Homo sapiens: one gene and its partners. The protein of the gene in region 2 purifies or fractionates together with the protein of the main gene of each other region. This does not show direct contact. Each region holds a gene or a part of one and is shown on either strand. Other genes may lie near its edges. The genes, in order: DHODH, SLC25A16 and ETFDH.

Evidence for each region.
Region 1: the proteins of SLC25A16 (region 2) and DHODH purify together in Homo sapiens (affinity purification with mass spectrometry; one large-scale study listed by BioGRID and IntAct). This does not show direct contact.
Region 3: the proteins of SLC25A16 (region 2) and ETFDH purify together in Homo sapiens (affinity purification with mass spectrometry; one large-scale study listed by BioGRID and IntAct). This does not show direct contact.

What each region holds. Positions count from the first base shown.
Region 1 is NC_000016.10:72,015,244-72,018,970, reverse strand, and holds part of DHODH (dihydroorotate dehydrogenase (quinone), mitochondrial), read right to left. Parts: intron 3,241-3,727; exon of another isoform or gene 3,118-3,240; coding exon of another isoform or gene 3,113-3,117; intron 1,948-3,112; coding exon 1,865-1,947; intron 1-1,864. UniProt on the Homo sapiens protein: Catalyzes the conversion of dihydroorotate to orotate with quinone as electron acceptor. Required for UMP biosynthesis via de novo pathway.
Region 2 is NC_000010.11:68,517,524-68,521,023, reverse strand, and holds part of SLC25A16 (solute carrier family 25 member 16), read left to right. Parts: intron 1-2,805; exon of another isoform or gene 2,806-3,500. UniProt on the Homo sapiens protein: May be involved in the transport of coenzyme A in the mitochondrial matrix. Very little is known about the physiological function of this carrier.
Region 3 is NC_000004.12:158,682,296-158,686,022, reverse strand, and holds part of ETFDH (electron transfer flavoprotein-ubiquinone oxidoreductase, mitochondrial isoform 1 precursor), read right to left. Parts: coding exon 3,599-3,727; intron 1,432-3,598; coding exon 1,350-1,431; intron 923-1,349; coding exon 804-922; intron 1-803. UniProt on the Homo sapiens protein: Accepts electrons from ETF and reduces ubiquinone.

The DNA of each region.
Region 1 (3,727 bases), on a different chromosome or scaffold from region 2:
CAAAGAATCCAATTAGACAAAAGGTTTATCATAAGGTCTCCAAGCTTCCCAGTCTAGCACCCATCAAGCCAAGATCATCTGTAAGCTTGAATTCTTTTCCTCACAAGTAAACTGACTTGAAGGAGAATATCACTTTCATGTAGCTAACGGATTAGGAGTCATCTGCCCAAACTGACAAGATTTGGGAGTTAGACAGAAATTGCTGGATTACTCTGTCCCCAGAGGGCACCAAAGCTTTTGTCAACGCGTGTTCCTTGGCATGGTGCTAACAACAAGCTGCCATGAAGGCCCCTAAGCTGCTGGCAGACACATCCGTGCAGAGCACTGCTGCAGGCTCCGCTTCACTCCGTAGACCAGGAGGGCCACAGGGAGGGAGGGCTGGGTGAGGAAGAACAGGAGATAAAGCCAGGACACTGCACTGCAGACACCGAGGAGAAGAAAAAGCAAGCACGAAGGCGGGCAAGCATCACAAACCATGCAAGTCCTGTGATGACCTCCAAAGCTCCCCAGGTGGGCGGCTCTGCAGTACAGCGGGGTCTGGTTCCACCCAACCCAGGGGTTTCCAAAAGATAATTTCCTATTCCCCAAATCTGACACTGCTGAGTGCCTCAGCCCTTTCCACCTCACTTCCTGAAATGAATCCCATATCCATTGGTTTCTTCATCCTGCTACCAGGACTATCTGAGACTAAGACATCCTGGAAGGAGTTTCAGAGGGACCCAAAGAAGAAAATGGTCGCTACTGAGCCACAACCCCACACAATCCCAGAGGGTCCCAGGGGCATTAGGGTCAGGACAACAGAGGGCTGCGACCACTAAGTGCATCCTGAGAGCAAGTGAGGCAGAGGCCACAGAGAACACCCGCATCGCCGGAGGCGTCTTCAAAAATGCATGTTGTGGCCAGGCGCGGTGGCTCACGCCTGTAATCCCAGCACTTTGGGAGGCCGAGGCAGGCGGATCACCAGGTCAGGAAATCGAGACCATCCTGGCTAACACAGTGAAACCCCGTCTCTACTAAAAATACAAAAAGAAATTAGCTGGGTGTGGCGGCGGGTGCCTGAAGTCCCAGCTACTCGGGAGGCTGAGGCAGGAGAATAGTGAGAACGCGGGAAGCAGAGCTTGCAGTGAGCCGAGATCCCGCCACTGCACTCTAGCCTGGGGCGACAGAGCGAGACTCCGTCTCAAAAAAAAAAAAAAAAAAGCATGTTGTTTTTGGTTTTTTTAGAGAAATGGGATCTCACCATGTTGCCCAGGCTGGTCTTAAACTCCTGAGTTCAAGTGATCCTCCCAACTTGGGCACCCAAAGTATTGAGATTACAGGTGTGAACTGTCCCGAACCAAAAATGAGTTTCCAAAACAACTCATGAAGAATATTTTCCCAAATGCTAATATTAGTTAGCCTTGAGTAGGGAGGAGTATCTGTTTCTTGAACATTCTTTCTTTACGCTTCTCTGTATTTACTAAGTCTTCTATAATTAATGAACATTATTTACACAATGGATGACAAAAAAGGGAGGACAGAGTGGGCCACGGGAGGATGACATTCAAGTCCTGCTCCTGCCCTCATTGCCTGTGTGATCATTGCCCAGCCGCTTTGCTTCGCTTGCTTTCAGGCCTCCCTAGTTACGGTAACAGGTTACATAACAAGGCAGAGGCAAAGTGAGTATTTGCTAAATTGCAAAATCCAGTTAAACTCTTGGAAGCTGTGTGGGACCAGGAAAATCGCTCTAGGAGAGGTGTCCTGAGGTCCTCAGTGGTTTTTGCTATTGCTCAATCATGTTTATTTCACTAGAAATGTTCCCAGCATTTCTCCCACGTTTCCTCCTAATAAATAAGAAAGGCCCACTGACACAACCCCACTTTACCTTCTGTGAGCTTGGCCTGCTTCTGCTGTCTGGCCCGTAACCTGTGTTCCACCACTGAAAGCCCGTGACTGTTAAATCCATACCTGCAGAGCACAAGCACACGGGAGGGGCAGAGTGAGACGGCACCATAGCCACTTCCCATACACTTAGGACTTTTTCAAACAAGAGAAAAAAAAAAATCACAGTCAGTTCTTACACTTCCAGGGTCTAAACACCACTGGGACTCCTAGAGAACTTGCCAGAACACCATCCAATACCCAGGGAAAGATTAAAATTTGCAAATGCTCAGCCAGCTAGCACTGGAAACAGCCCAGACTCAGCAGCAGCTGCCCCAGACCTGCTGGATCCCCACTCCTTACCCAGCCACTCTCTGAGAATTGCACACTCACTTGCCACCTTCTGCCTGGGCTCCCAAACAGCCTCCTGAAGCCCCTGCAGCCACTCCATCTCTCTAGGCTTTCTGTCTGAAAATCACCTCTCTTCCTAGCTCAGAGCAAACGCTCCCTCTCCTCCTGCACAGAGCTCGCAGCTGCAAAGGATCCCTCATCCCCCTGGCCTTCATACAGAGCTTTGGCCCCACCTTTCTCCTGGCTTGGGATAGATACATACATATATGCTTAAGGTCCCTAGGTTACAATCTTCTTGAGGGTGAGCAACATCTCATACTTCTCTCATCCCTCTGTCACTGTCACTAGACACTCCCTGAAGGCAGGAGCCTCATCTCTCTTTCATCCCTGTATCCCCAGCCCCACTGTGGGTTTTGACCTAGTGGCCAGTCCCCTTCCTCTTCCTCTTTGCCAGTGAAACCCACCTGCCCTGATACAGGGTAAAAATGCTAATGACTCCTTTCCCAGCCTTGCTGGCAAGGGAAGCGTAAGTGTATGCCAAGTGTAGACACTGAGACACAAGTGAGACCTACTGGGAGCCTCTGAGAACATCCCTGCCCTTTTTCCTTTCTGCTCTTGGGCGTCCGTGTAAGAACATAATACTTGCAGCCGAGGTCGCTCTCTGACAAGCAAAAAGAAAACGCCCAGAGAAGTTGGACCAGAGTCTCAACACTGCCCTGGTGCTCAACCAACCCTGGACCTGCCCATTGCACCTGTTATGAGAAGAAAATAATATCAAATGTGCCTGTTGTTTAAGCCACTTTGTTAGAGCCAAAAGCATCCATAATAACAGACACACTGGCACACATATCTGATGACTTCATAACTTCACCCATTCATTAAGTGTTTACTACACACTTACCACATGCCACACAACCAGGAGGCCGCACACACAGGGCTCAGAGCAGGATCTCACACCCCTGCTCACCTATAGGATTCACCAAGTACCATCATCCCAGCACCTGCAGTTATCTGTAGCAGCTGAATGTTAAGCAAATATATTTTGCCTGGCCAATTCTGAAGATATTGATCCCCACCTGCAATGCAGCAGAAAGATCAATAACTTGATCTCTAATGCTGGAGAATTTCCCTGAAACAAGCACAAGAAAGCAGGAAGCACGGCCAAGTAAATGTCCTACAGGTCCGTCTCCCAGGAGGCCACCAGTGGCCCCAAAGATGCCCATCGAAATCTCCCCAAGGAGGCTCTTCAAAATCCTCTTACCAAAAAGTAAGCACTTCTTCACCTTTTGGGTTTGCTGTAGTAAAAATTGCCCAGGGATGACAAAGGGAAGGGCTTTATACAGTCTAGAAGGATTTCTCTTACTAAGAGCAGCTGTGCATGTTGAATATTACATTTCCCTGTTTGCTAAAGGCTGGGGCTGTGCTAGCCAATACAAGCCTGCTGGCCGCATGTGGCTACTGGCTGCTGGGAATGCAGCTGGTCCAAAGGGAGAGGTGCTGGAAGTAAAATGCACAC
Region 2 (3,500 bases):
TAGCTGGGACTGCAGGCACGTGCCACCATGCCGGCTAATTTTTTGTAGTTTTAGTGGAGACGGGGTTTCACCATGTTAGCCAGGATGGTCTCGATCTCCTGACCTTGCGATCTGCCCGCCTCAACGTCCCAAAATGCTGGGATTACAGATGTGAGGCACCATGCCTGGCCCTTCGCCTGGCTAATTTTTGTATTTTTTTTTTTTTTTTTTTGAGACAGAGTTTTGCTCTTGTTGCCCAGGCTGGAGTGTAATGGTGCAATTGTGAATCACTGCAACCTCTGCCTCCTGGATTCAAGCAATTCTCCTGCCTCAGCCTCCCGTGTAGCTGGGATTACAGGCATGTGCCACCAGGCCTAGCTAATTTTTGTATTTTTAGTAGAGATAGTGTTTCTCCATGTTGGTCAGGCTGGTTTCGAACTTCTGACCTCAGGTGATCTGCCTGCCTCGGACTTCCAAAGTGCTGGGATTACAGGTGTGGGCCACTGCGCCTGGCCTAATTTTTGTATTTTTAGTAGAGACGGGGTTTCACCAAGTTGGCCAGGCTGGTCTTGAAATCCTGACCTCAAGTGATCCTCCCACCTAGGCCTCCCAAAATGCTGGGATTATAGGCATGAGCCATTGTGCCCGGGTCAATTGTTTATTTACAGATTGTCTATCTAATATTTTTTGAACATGGATGACTGGTGGTAACTAAAACTGCAGAAAGTGAAATTGCAGATAAGGGGGGACTATCGTAGTGTGAAAGCAAGTTAAGATACTATTAAATAGGCTGGGTGCGGTGGCTCATGCCTGTAATCCCAGTACTTTGGGAGGTAGAGGCGGGTGGATGACGAGATCAGGAGTTCAAGAACAGTCTGGCCAACATGGTGAAACCCTCTCTCTACTAAAGACTAAAAAAAGAAAAAATTAGCTGGGCGAGGTGGTGGGTTCCTGTAATCCCACCTACTCGGGAGGCTGGGGCAGGAGAATCGCTTGAACCTGGGAGGTGAAGGTTGTAGTGAGCCGAGATCGCACCATTGCACTCCAGCCCTGGAAAAAAAAAAAAAAAGATACTATTATATAAAAGTACTTATTGAATACATTCTAAACAATTTCTCTCTTTTTTTTTGAGACGGAGTTTCGTTCTTGTCGCCCAGGCTGGAGTGCAGTGACATGATCTCGGCTCACTGCCACCTATGCCTCCCGGGTTCAAGCGATTCTCCTGCCCCAGCTTTCCAAGTATCTGGGATTATAAGCATGTGCCACCACACCTGGCTAATTTTTGTATTTTTAGAAGAGATGGGGTTTCACCATGTTGGCTAGGCTGGTCTCGAACTCCTGACCTCAGATGATCTGCCCACCTCGGCCTCCCAAAGTGCTGGGAATACAGGCGAGAGCCACTGCACCTGGCCTAAATAATTCATTATACAGTTAATTCATACACAACTGAGAAGATAATATAAAATATTCTGAAACCAAATGTATCCAAATGCATATTATTTTTAGTTTACCCATAATTTTGGATAGCTATGATTATGATTTACTTTTTTTTTTTTTTTGAGATGGAGTCTCACTCTGTCACCCAGGCTGGAGTGCAGTGGCACAATCTCAGCTCACTGAGACCTCTGCCTCCCGGGTTCAGGCAATTCTCTGCCTCAGCCTCCCGAGTAGCTGGGATTACAGGTGTCCGCTACCACACCTGGCTAATTTTTGTATTTTTAGTAGAGACAAGGTTTCACCATCTTGGCCAGGCTGGTCTTGAACTCCTGACCTCGTGATCCACCCACCTCGGCCTCCCAAAGTGCTGGGATTACAGGCATGAGCCACTGCGCCCAGCCTTTTTTTGTTTTTTGAGACGGAGTTTCATTCTTGTTGCCCAGGCTAGAGTGCAATGGTGTGATCTCGGCTCACCACAACCTCTGCCTCCCAAGTTCAAGTGATTCTCCTGCCTCAGCCTCCCAAGTAGCTGGGATTACAGGCACACGTCATCACACCCAGCTAATTTTGTATTTTTAGTAGAGACAGGGTTTCTCCATGTTGGTCGGGCTGGTCTCAAACTCCCGACCTCAGGTGATCCGCCCACCTCGGCCTCCCAAAGCGCTGGGATTACAGGTATGAGTCACCATACCTGGCCAACTATTATTTTCATTAGTTCGGATAAGAGAGCTTTGATATGGAAACATAGTGGATATAATATCTGAGTAAAAAATACATTTTATTTATTTATTTATTTAATTTATTTATTTATTTATTTATTTTATTTGTTTTTTTGAGACCGAGACCTGCTCTGTTGCTCGGGCTGGAGTGCAGTGGTGCGATCTCGGCTCACTATTACCTCTGCCTCCTGGGTTCATGCAATTCTTCTGCCTCAGCCTCCCAAGCAGCTGGGATTACATGCACGCACCACCATGCCCAGCTAATTTTTGTGTTTTTAGTAGAGATGGGATTTTACCATGTTGGCCAGGCTGGTCTTGAATTCCTGACCTCGTGATCTGCCCGCCTCGGCCTCCCAAAGTGCTGCGATTACAGGCATGAGCCACGGCTCCCAGCCACAATTTATTTTTGGATATCTCAGAATATGGATTTTTAAAATTAAAATTTTATTTGTGTTTTCTTTTTTTTTCTTTTTTTAAGACATAGTCTCTGTAACCCAGGCTGGAGTGCAATGGTGTGATCTCAGCTCACTGCAACCTCCACCTTTTGGGTTCAAGAGATTCTTCTTCCTCGGCCTCCCCAGTAGTTGGGATTACAGGCAGCCGCCACCATGCCCGGCTAATTTTTTTATTTTTAGTAGAAATGGGGTTTCACCATATTGGCCAGGCTGGTTTCAAACTCCTGACCTCAAGTGATCTGCCTGCCTCGGCCTCCCAAATTGCTGGGATTACAGGCGTGAGCCACCGTGCCCGGACTTGTTGTTTTTTAAAGACCAGGTGTTGCTGTGTTATCTAGGCTGGAGCGAAGCCGCACAATTATAGCTCTCCGTGACCTCCAACTGTTGGCTCACGTCATCCTCCAGCCTTAGTCTCTGAGTACTGAGGCACACCACCATGCCTTGCTAATTTTTTTTTTTCTTTGAGATGGAGTCTCGCTTTGTCGCCCAGGCTAGAGTGCAATGGTGTGATCTCGGCTCACTGCAACCTCGGCCTCCTGGGTTCAAGGGATTCTCCTGCCTTAACCTCCCAAATAGCTGGGACTACAGGCGCCTGCCACCATGCCTTGCTAATTTTTTTGTATATTTGATAGAGACGGGGTTTCACCATGTTGGCCAGGCTGGTGTCGAGCTCCTGACCTCAGGAGATCTGCCCGCCCCGAGCTGCCAAAGTGCTGGGATTGCAGGCATGAAGCACTGCGCCCAGCCGATTTTAAAAAATTTTTTGTAGAGATGAGGTCTCACTGTGTTTCCCAGGCTGGTCTCAAACTCCTAGTCTCAAGTAATTTTTCTACCTCAGCCTCCGAAAGTGCTGGGATTACAGGTGCGAGCTACTGTGCCTGGCCTGTTATTCACCTTTTTATAAAAGGAG
Region 3 (3,727 bases), on a different chromosome or scaffold from region 2:
TCTTATTGTTAATATCTATTGCAGAAAAGAAAACAGAAAAAAGCAACTACACCTAGACAAACACTTTTTCATAAGATCATGCCTGCCTCTCAGGCTCATTCAAATTCCAAAGAGAATCATTTACAAGTTAATTTCTGTGTCTTGGGTGCATTCATTTTCCCTAAAAATCATTCACTTCCTTTCAAGATTGCTAAACACCCAATTTCCCCTTCCCTTCTGCTGAAAGGTAGATAAGCATTTGGACCTCACTGGGTTATCGGGTCATCATTCTCTTGTGCTTATGCATGTTAAATAAATCTCTATGCTTCTTCTCCTATTACTCTGTCTATTGTCAGTTCATTTCTGGTGAACCTTCAGAGGGCAGAGACAAACCTTTCCCTTAACTCCTATACCACCCCTATACTGGGAAATAAAAAAAAATTCCAGAGTAAAGATAGGGAGGAAGAGAGAGCAGGGAATAATTATAATTAGAAAGTTGTCCTTGGAAGAGGGCATAGATTTGTTCTGGATAGTATAAAACCATAGGTAAGTTCTGTTCAAAATAAGGAAGAGATTACCAACAATCTACAATTTTTCATCCCTTATGGTGATCAATCATAAGTTGGATAATCACTTGATGGGGGTACAACATGAGGAATTCAAGTACTCTTTGGATTAGATACTTTAAAGATTCCTTCTAATCTTATAATTCTAAAATCCCATGGCTTTTAAAAAATATTTATTTCTTCAACTTTATAAAATTCTCCACTTATTAAAAAAAGAGAGTTCCTATAAATATTAAAACAAAACAAAACTATACAAACCTCAGCAGCTGCATAACCAGGGTATACTTCAACACCAAGGGCTTCTGCTTGTTCGCCCATCCAGCTCACTAAATGTCCCAAGCGTACAATGTAATTGCCATGATTATTCATTGGAAGCCCTATAAATATATGCTTAATTTATAAATCTGACTTTTTATTGATAAGACATTACAAAAACATAAATACTTTAAAATTTCGAATCAATATGTATTTCTACATAAGTGCTACATTGATGGTCACACTTTCAACTTATTTTCTACAATTTTGGTCTAGAGTTCTAATTTATTACATTACAAACAACATTAAAGCACTAAGTTAGAAATTCCTGCTTGGCTTACAAGGCTATCTCAATTCTTCTAGACTGGAAGACAAAAGAACTGAGTTCTAGTCCTGCTTTCCCACCAGCTAGCTGTATAGCTTTGAGTAAGTCCTTCAAATATCTGGGTCTCAGTTCTTGTCTGTAAAAGGAGGAAATTTCGTCAGATGAAATGTAGTTCCTTCCAGCTGTGGAATTCCATAGTTCTATGCATATTCACTATACCTTACCTGGAAGAATTGGCACAGGAATTCTGTATTTCTCTGTTAAAATTCCAAATCTGTCTTCTGTTACAGGAGTGTTAAGTGGAGCCTAGAAATAAAAGAAGAAAAAGAAATGTTTTTAGTTTATATTTGCAAGTGTAAATATAAATACAAAAAAACTATAAAATGTACTCTGATGACAAAAAAAGAACTCCCCCCTAATTTTCTTTTGGCATTTCCTTTATAAAACTTGTCACTGTGAATCCTTTCTCTGTCTGAGATGTACAGAAATCTTTTTTTTTTTTTTTTTTGAGACAGTGTCTCTTTCTGTCACCCAGGCTGGAGTGCAGTGGTGCAATCTCAGCTCACTGTAGCCTCTGCCTCCTGGGTTCAAGTGTTTCTCCTGCCTCAGCCTCCCAAGTGGCTGGGCTTATAGGCACCTGCCACCATGCTGGGCTAATTTTTGTATTTTTAGTAGAGAGGGGGTTTTACCATGTTGGCCAGGCTGGTCTCGAACTCCTGACCTCAAGTCATCCATCCGCCTTGGCCTCCCAAAGTGTTGGGATTACACGCCCGGCCAGCTGGGAATCTTTTAAAAATCTAAATAAACCTCTTGCCAGTTTTGCATCCCAGGAATATATTTCTTGGGAGTCTTGGAAACACCTTTGAAACGTGACCCTCATGTCTTTTTGTCTCTGTGGAGAGGTTAGCCAAGTTGCTTGGCTCTTAAGTTGAAACTTCCTGGTTGGTGAAAGGTAAGAGAAGTTTTATTTTCCTCTTGGATAAAGAGAATTAACATGTTGTTACACTGTACCTGCTGGCTATACATATTAAAAGGCACCAAAGTCTGTGTGGTGGCTCACAGGCCTGTAGTCCCAGCAATTTGGGAGGCCGAAGCTAGTGGTTTTGAGCCCACATGGCAAAAATCCTGTCTGTACTAAAAAAATACAAAAATTAGCTGGGTGTGGTGGTGCACGCCTGTAATCCCAGCTACTAAGGGGGCTGAGGTGGGAGGATTACTTGAGCCCCGGAGGTTGAGGCTGCAGAGAGCCATGATTGTGCCACTGTACTCCAGCCTGGGTGACAGAGTGAGACCCTGTCTCAAAAAAAAGGTGCCAAAGCAATAAAGGGCTTTAACATGAAAAACATTTTCTATTAGAATTGATATTATGTCAGTGTTAATTCAATAATATCCATTTCTGATATAATATCAAAAGGATAAATTCAACTGGGCCTAATTAAAGTATTTCTAGTTTAAGGGAGCTTGATATTTCAGAAAGGAGAGACAGACGAAATTTTTGGAATTCAATTTATTCCATATGGAAAAAATACAGATATTTATATAATTTTTGATCTTTGCAAGTATATTCACAACCACTGAATAATCTAATCTAGGAGGTAGGACAGGTATAATATAACCCATCTTAGAGAAGAAAAAATTGACAATCTAAGATTTTAACCAAATTCATACAAATTTTATTTAAGACAATAAAACTTGGACTTGGTCCTCTGTATATCACACCTGTGGTTTTTCTGCTTAGGTTATGGGAAGCCATATTAATATGTTTCTTCAGAAAATTAGGTTATCCTCTTTGGCTTTAGATATTGCATTGTCCCAGGAATTATTACTTTATTAAGAACAATCATACAAAGACTTAAAGAACAAGTTTAAAAATACCCTCAAAATACAAAATGCCTCCCAAGAAATATTCAAAGGTCTTCTCAAGTTATCTTCTCATATACCCATTACATAAATACATGTAGAAAGCATTACACAAAAATATTTGTTAATATCATAAATTACAATTCTGATATAAATTTTTTTTTAATTTAAAAAGTATATAATTATTCCCTTAGAGTTACATGGGCTGGGCGTGGTGGCTCATGCCTGTAATCCCAGTGCTTTGGGAGGCCAAGGTGGGTGGATCGCCTGAGGTCAGGAGTTCGAGACCAGTCTGGCCAATACAGTGAAACCCTGTCTCTACTAAAAATACAAAAAATTAGCTGGGAGTGTTGGCAGGTGCTTGTAAACCCAGCTACTAGGGAGACTGAGGCAGGAGAATCACTTGAACCTGGGAGGTGGAGGTTGCAGTGAGCCAAGATCGCGCCATTGCACTCCAGCCTGGGCAACAAGAGTGAAACTCCATCTCAAAAAAAGAAAAAAAAAAAAGATAGAGTTACATGAAAAGGGTTTCCTATATTCCAGTAATTTGGGAACAATTACTGAAATACAATTACAAAAGATTAGACTTTGTATAAAAAACAATTTTTCATACCCCCTTCTCTTTCCAGTCTGGGAAGAGTTCTTTAAAAGCACCTGGATCAAGGCAAGCCCCTGAGAGAGTATGAGCTCCTATCTGGGCAGCTTTCTCCACTAGACACACACGGATGTCCTTTTCATGTGC